Homo sapiens: one gene and its partner. The protein of the gene in region 1 interacts with the protein of each later gene in a pairwise test. Each region holds a gene or a part of one and is shown in the gene's direction. Other genes may lie near its edges. The genes, in order: CDH6 and TRPV2.

Evidence for each region.
Region 2: the proteins of CDH6 (region 1) and TRPV2 interact in a protein complementation assay, tested with the Homo sapiens proteins (one study listed by IntAct).

What each region holds. Positions count from the first base shown.
Region 1 is NC_000005.10:31,199,876-31,203,701, forward strand, and holds part of CDH6 (cadherin-6 isoform 1 preproprotein), read left to right. Parts: intron 1-1,799; exon of another isoform or gene 1,800-1,883; intron 1,884-3,826. UniProt on the Homo sapiens protein: Cadherins are calcium-dependent cell adhesion proteins. They preferentially interact with themselves in a homophilic manner in connecting cells; cadherins may thus contribute to the sorting of heterogeneous cell types.
Region 2 is NC_000017.11:16,421,815-16,425,640, forward strand, and holds part of TRPV2 (transient receptor potential cation channel subfamily V member 2), read left to right. Parts: intron 1-784; coding exon 785-1,075; intron 1,076-1,654; coding exon 1,655-1,953; intron 1,954-3,826. UniProt on the Homo sapiens protein: Calcium-permeable, non-selective cation channel with an outward rectification. Seems to be regulated, at least in part, by IGF1, PDGF and neuropeptide head activator. May transduce physical stimuli in mast cells.

The sequences.
Region 1 (3,826 bases):
AAATCAAAATGACCCTACTATACTTGTATCCTCTTTACTTAGCCCTTTTTTGGTTTGAATTTCCAGGGAATCTCTGTTTGAGCCAAGCACTTAATGAAGGTGCTGTTAACAAACAGTTGTGATGTCTTAGAAGTAAAAGTGTGACTCTCTCTGAGAACTACAGAGCAGCAGAGGGCATGGGAATGATTTGATTATTTTGACCAGAGCTTGGCAGATGTGAAGGCTCAGGAAGATGTTTTTAAGTTATTCATTTTTGAAAAATCATCTGCAAGCATGTGTCAGAATTTATAATTGTAGTAGAAAGCATTGTGTGGGCCATTTTTATGAACATAATGATGGTACTTTTTATATGAGAATAAATTATCTTATCCTGCCTTCAGAGGGATCTTTATGAGGAAAGGGGTATTTCAGGAAGGTAGCTAAAATGACACCTGTTCATTGCATTGAGAGGGGAGGGACACCTCAACCTCACAGCACCCACTAAGGGCATCAGTCCATTCTCAGCTCGTTGACATTACCATGGATGTAGCATTTGGGACTCTGGGTAGAGCTAAGTAAGATAGTGTTTGTGTCCTTCTTCATCTAGTAAGTAAAAATAATTTTTTATGACCACATTTATTTTGTTACTTCATTACTATCACAATTTGGTATTTGTTCTGAATGATTTACCAAGTAAAATTTCACACATACATACACACACACACACACACACACACACACACATATACACACCACTACCATGCCACCAGAAAACAATCGCCACAAAAGCAAGGAAAGAAAGAGGGAGGGAGGAAAGGAGAAAGGGAGGGAAGTTGGGAGAAGGAAGGAGGGAGAGAGAGGAGTGAGGGAGAGAGGGAGGAAGGGAGGGAGGAAGAAACCCTCTTAATACAGTCACGTTTTATATGGTTGACATTGATGAGCCATTTTCATTATATTCTCTTCTTTCTATTGCCGCCATTCAAAAAGTCATGTAGTTAATCTAGCCTTCAAGGAAAGTTTGATCATTAGAAATATAATCAGAGAATGTGAGACACAGGAAGGAGCTTAAAGATGACTTTATCTAATACTCTTCATTTAACTGTGAGATAACTGATGACCAGAGAGATGAATAACTTATCCATGGATATATTTGATTTATTTTGTTCTCTTATCTCTATCTTTCTCTGCTGTGGCTTGATTTCTAGTTGTTGAATGTTATTGCTTTTTATCATCACCATTTAATTCTGGCATTAAAAATTAAAGAGGAAATTTAAATAAAGAATATTATTATTTATAATTATTCTGTGAAGGGACAAATGTGGATACTTGCGGTGAAGATAAGGATGTAGGCTTCTTTAAGAATTTTGTGTGTTCCTACATTTTGCAAATTTCCTATTGCAAAGAAGAATTAATATTTTCCCTCAAAATATTGACCATTGCTAGGGAGACATATGATAAGGTTTGGGGTTTTGTTTTATTTGTAATGGATTGATGGCAGTTTTGAGTAAACCTTATCTAAATCAGTGATTCCCCAGGAGACCCAAAGTTGTATCCATCTTTGAAATAAAAAAAATCATTGGTCAGTGGTTAGATATGAGAAATGATGACAACCTATTGTGTGTCTCATAAATCTCAATTTATTTGATTTAAAGAAATCAGACAGTAACCTTCCCACTGCTTTGAAGTTAAAATGTCAATTCTTTCATGGAAATATGGGGAAAGATTATGATGGCTCTTTCCTTGGCAAAATTTAAATTTGGCAAGTAACTCAATGTCAATCCTCTCCCCTTTAAAAAATAAAACTGTTAATGTTCCATGAAATCCAAAAGTCTGGGGACCACTGGTTTAATACAATGACTGACATCATGTTGAGAAATGATTGACCTGGTTCTCTTCCTTCTTATCTGGATGAACAAAAAGTAAAGGGGAATTATAATTATATTTAAAACACCAAAAAGACAAACTAAACAAAAGCCATTTAATGAAAAGGTATCCTTGGGTCTCTTAATTAAAACTTACAGAGATTAATACTAACATTTGGAATACTAATATGATCTTTGACCATATTAACATATCCTCAAAAAAAATATGCTTTGCCAAGCTCATGGCCAGAATGTGTCATTAATAGTGAATTTGCCCACTTGATTACAAAGCGGATAATTCAGTGGGAAATGAAAAGTTTTAAATTTATATCTAACTCTATAAGCCGGAACAAACACAGCCCACCTTAACCATATAAATTATAAAATCAGTGTCTTTTTTTTTCTAAAAGTGAACTTTGTATAATTGTAGACAAAAATTTACTAACATGTTGGTCTGTGTTTTGAGATATACATTTTTACTTCAAAAAGCAATTGCCTTCTAGTGTATAGTATAGATTTCAGTCATTAAAATGAGCTTATCGTATTTTTAACTGCAAAGCTTAAATCTCCTTTTGCAGAATTAAAAAAGAAAGAGAGTCTCATTAATCTACTAGCATCCACTTTAAAATATTTGCAGGCCGGGCATGGTGGCTCATGCCTCTAATCCCAGCACTTTGGGAGGCCAAGGCAGGCGGATCAACTGAGGTTAGGAGTTTGAGACCAGCCTGACCAACATAGTGAAACCCCATCTCTACTAAAAATACAAAAAACTTAGCCAGATATGGTGGCAGGCACCTATAATCCCAGCTACTCAGGAGGCTGAGAGGGAGAATCGCTGGAACCCAGGAGGCGGAGGTTGCAGTGAGCCCAGATCACGCCATTCTACTCCAGCCTGGGTGATAAGAGCAAAACTTCACCTCAAAAAAATATATATATATACACACACATATATATATATGCAACTGTATGTATATATACACATATATACATACATGCGTATATATGTTACATATATACATATATGCGTGTATATATGTAACATATACACGCATATATGTATATGTCACATATATATGTGTATATATGTGACATATATAAAACTATATGTATATATACACACACATATATATATGCAAAATATATATATATTTGCAACTGCTCAGTTTTGTACTCAACAAAATATTCTAAGCTCCCCTTAGCAACAGTTTCTAATTTAATACCAATCAAAATGGCTTGTGGTCAGTCTAATTACCAATGCAAAATGATAAAATCTACCTTGACTGTTACATTACTGCTGACTCCTCATTTGAACCAAGTTCAGCGACTTTTCTCCCAACAATTATTCTTGTATTAAGCTACTTGTTTAAAAGTATCTAGTAGAGATATTGTCAGTGTTTCATAAAAGATTAATTCTATTAGTGTGGCCTTGTGATAAATATCAGTTCCACATTTTCCCTCTCTGATTTACCTGCTTTTTTATAAAGCGAGAGAGAGAGAGAGATGTTTCAGGCAGGTCCTTTTTTTTTTTTATTTATTTTTTATTATTATACTTTAAGTTTTAGGGTACATGTGCACATTGTGCAGGTTAGTTACATATGTATACATGTGCCATGCTGGTGCGCTGCACCCACTAACTCGTCATCTAGCATTAGGTATATCTCCCAATGCTATCCCTCCCCCCTCCCCCCACCCCACAACAGTCCCCAGAGTGTGATATTCCCCTTCCTGTGTCCATGTGATCTCATTGTTCAATTCCCACCTATGAGTGAGAATATGCGGTGTTTGGTTTTTTGTTCTTGCGACAGTTTACTGAGAATGATGATTTCCAATTTCATCCATGTCCCTACAAAGGACATGAACTCATCATTTTTTATGGCTGCATAGTATTCCATGGTGTATATGTGCCACATTTTCTTAATCCAGTCTATCATTGATGGACATTTGGGTTGGTTCCAAGTCTTTGCTATCGTGAATAATGCCACAAT
Region 2 (3,826 bases), on another chromosome or scaffold:
GCCTTATATTATTCCCTTTGAACCTTACAATAATCCTGGAACATTCCCATTTTACAGTAACGAAAACTGAGATTAAGAGAGGCCACGTGACTTGCCAGAGGAGATAGAGACATTAAGTGGTGGAGTCATGTACAAATACTGCTCTGAATGTTCTGCTGTAGACAGCATTTCACGAATGATGACTTATGTCTTAGAAATTTAGTTTCTAAGCCGGGCGCAGTGGCTCACGCCTGTAATCCCAGCACTTTGGGAGGCCGAGGTGGGCAGATCATGAGATCAGGAGATCGAGACCATCCTGGCTAACACGGTAAAACCCGTCTCTGCTGAAAACAAAAAACAAAACAAAACAACAAAAAAAATTAGCCGGGTGTGGCGGTGTGCGCCTGTGGTCCCAGCTGCTGGGGAGGCTGAGGCAGGAAAACGGCGTGAACCTGGGAGGCAGAGCTTGCAGTGAGCCAAGATTGCGCCACTGCACTCCAGCCTGGGTGACAGAGCAAGACTCTGTCTCAAAAAAAAAAAAAAAAGAAAAGAAAAGAAAAGAAAAAGAAAAAAAAAGAAATTTCGTTTCTAGGGCAGAAATTGTAGTCATGTCTGTTGGTATTTCTTATCTGTTACTTGGAGCCTTAATAGCCTATAACATGGTTGTGCTCCCACCAGTTATGTGTAGCATCTCTTTTAATCCTCCCAAGGGGTACTTTGAGCTGGGCTTATAAGAGCTATCGGGCAGCCCAGCCACTCCAGGTCTCAGCACCACTGTGCCCCTTCCCCTCCCTTCTTCCCACAGAGGGCTCCACAGGTAAGACGTGCCTGATGAAGGCTGTGCTGAACCTTAAGGACGGAGTCAATGCCTGCATTCTGCCACTGCTGCAGATCGACAGGGACTCTGGCAATCCTCAGCCCCTGGTAAATGCCCAGTGCACAGATGACTATTACCGAGGCCACAGCGCTCTGCACATCGCCATTGAGAAGAGGAGTCTGCAGTGTGTGAAGCTCCTGGTGGAGAATGGGGCCAATGTGCATGCCCGGGCCTGCGGCCGCTTCTTCCAGAAGGGCCAAGGGACTTGCTTTTATTTCGGTGAGTGAGCCTTTCTTGGATAAATCGAGGCAAAGAGAGAGTAAGGCCTGGTTCAAGGTCACATGGTTAGTGTATGACAGAGCTGGCAGTTAAACCTAGGTTTTTCTGACCCCGATGCCCTGCTTCTAACCACTAGGCTGCCTGCAAAAGCAGTTTGTCTTTTGTCCAGGCCAGCCTCAAACTCCTGGGTTCTAACAATCCTCCTGCCTTAGCTTCTCGAGCTGGGGCTACAAGTGTGTGCCACCACATCCAGCATTAATTTGTCATAAGAGATGTTTCATCCTCGTCTGGCCAGAAGACGGGCATGCACCCAGACCCAGACCCAGGGAAAGAAATAGGGGCTGCTAGCACTGGCATGTGACTTGGCCAGGCAGAGCCTGAATAAAGAGGCAGCATGCCTGGGCTCTGGCAAAGAAGACAGCAAAAGGCAGCAGGTTGGCTGGCCCCTGTTCTGCTCCCTTCAGTGGTAAAGAAGCCTGACCTGTTTCAAGGAGGGCTGGCCTTTTGTCCAAGGAGCATGAGGAGTAGGCAGATGGAAAGCAGGAGGCCTGGGGCCCAAGCTGCTCTCTTGGCCTGCAGGTGAGCTACCCCTCTCTTTGGCCGCTTGCACCAAGCAGTGGGATGTGGTAAGCTACCTCCTGGAGAACCCACACCAGCCCGCCAGCCTGCAGGCCACTGACTCCCAGGGCAACACAGTCCTGCATGCCCTAGTGATGATCTCGGACAACTCAGCTGAGAACATTGCACTGGTGACCAGCATGTATGATGGGCTCCTCCAAGCTGGGGCCCGCCTCTGCCCTACCGTGCAGCTTGAGGACATCCGCAACCTGCAGGATCTCACGCCTCTGAAGCTGGCCGCCAAGGAGGGCAAGATCGAGGTGAGCGGCTGTCCCCTTCCCACTTCCCCTCTCCAGGAAGCAGTAGGTCTCATCCCAAAATTTCTGCAGAAAGAACCCAGGGGGTGGTGAAGAGCAGTGGCTTCTCTGCTTTTCAATGGAACACTCCTGTTAGTAAGAAAATTTTCAGTATGTACCTCTGATATATTTCTGTTTATTTATAAATTGCATATGAACTACTGAATATATTACATTATAAAACATTGAGATTTTTTTTTTTTGAGACGGTGTTTCGCTCTTGTTGCCCAGGCTGGAGTGCAATGGTGCGACCTCGGCTCACCGCAACCTCTGCTTCCCAGGTTCAAGCGATTCTCCTGCCTCAGCCTCCCAAGTAGCTGGGATTACAGGCATGTGCCACCACACCCAGCTAATTTTGTTTTTTTTTTTTTTGAGACGGACCCTCGCTCTGTCACCCAGGCTGGAGTGCAGTGACATGATCTCGGCTCACTGCAACCTCTGCCTCCCAGGTTCAAGCAATTCTCCTGCCTCAGCCCCCTGAGTAGCTGGGATTACAGGCACCCACCACCATGCCTGGCTAATTTTTTTTTTGTATTTTCAGTAAAGAGGGGTTTCACCATGTTGGTCAGGCTGGTCTTGAACTCCTGACCTCGTGATCCACCCGCTTCGGCCTCCCAAAGTGCTGGGATTACAGGCACGCGCCACTGCACCCAGCTAATTTTTTGTATTTTTAGTAGAGATGGGGTTTCACCATGTTGGCCAGGCTGGTCTTGAACTCCTGACCTCAGGTGATCTGCCCACCTCGGCCTCCCAAAGTGCTGGGATTACAGGTGTGAGCCATGGCACCCGGCCAAACATTGGGAATTTTTAAAAGTCGTTTGTGTTTCTTTATTAAGAGATAGCCTTTTTATATCTTTTGCCTATTTTGCTATTCTGTTTCTGCATATTTATTGATAACTTTATAATGAATTTAGTATTTTGTCTACCATAGCACTTGTAAAATTTCTCCTAGTTCATCATTTGTCTTTTGAATTTTATGTTTTTTTTGCTATACAGGATTTAAAAATTTTTATAATCTGCAAGTGTGACTATCTTTTCCTTTAAGGTTCCATGGTTTTGCTATTGTCTAATTCCTGCTACAAGATTTTATATATATAATACATATTATATGTACATAATATATGTTATAACTATTATACATTATATTATACATTATAATTATATATAGTATATATATAATCTTCATACCCATATTTTCTTCCAAACTTTTGCAGCTGCATTTTTTTTTTTTTTTTTTTGAGATGGAGTTTCGCTCTTGTTGCCCAGGCTGGAGTACAATGGCGCGATCTCGGCTAACTGCAACCTCCGCCTCCGGAGTTCAAGCGATTCTCTTGCCTCAGCCTCCCGAGTAGCTGGGATTACAGGCATGTGCCACCACGCCCGGCTAATTTTGTATTTTTAGTAGAGACGGGGTTTCTCCATGTTGGTCAGGCTGGTCTCAAACTCCCGACCTCTGGTGATCCACCTGCCTCAGCCTCCCAAAGTGCTGAGATTACAGGCATGAGCCGAAACGCCCAGCCTGCAGCTGCATTTTTAATGCCTAGAGCTTTGACTAGCTGGAAGTTATTCTGGTAGGAAGAGTAAACATGAGGCAGCCCCCACTTTGTTCCAGATAGCTTACCAATGGCCTGTTCCAAATAGCTTTTGCCAATAGCTCACCAGGGCTGGCCTCATGGGCTTACAGTGGAGATTTTTGAAAGATTAAGGAAACGATAAACATAAATAGAAGTTTTAACCCTTTTTCGCTGCCCTCCCAAGTTTTTTGGAGTGCTCCCTGGGGTGTGTGAACCTCACTTTCTTGTCTAGAGGCACTGCTGTGTGGCCTATGAAAGCAGTG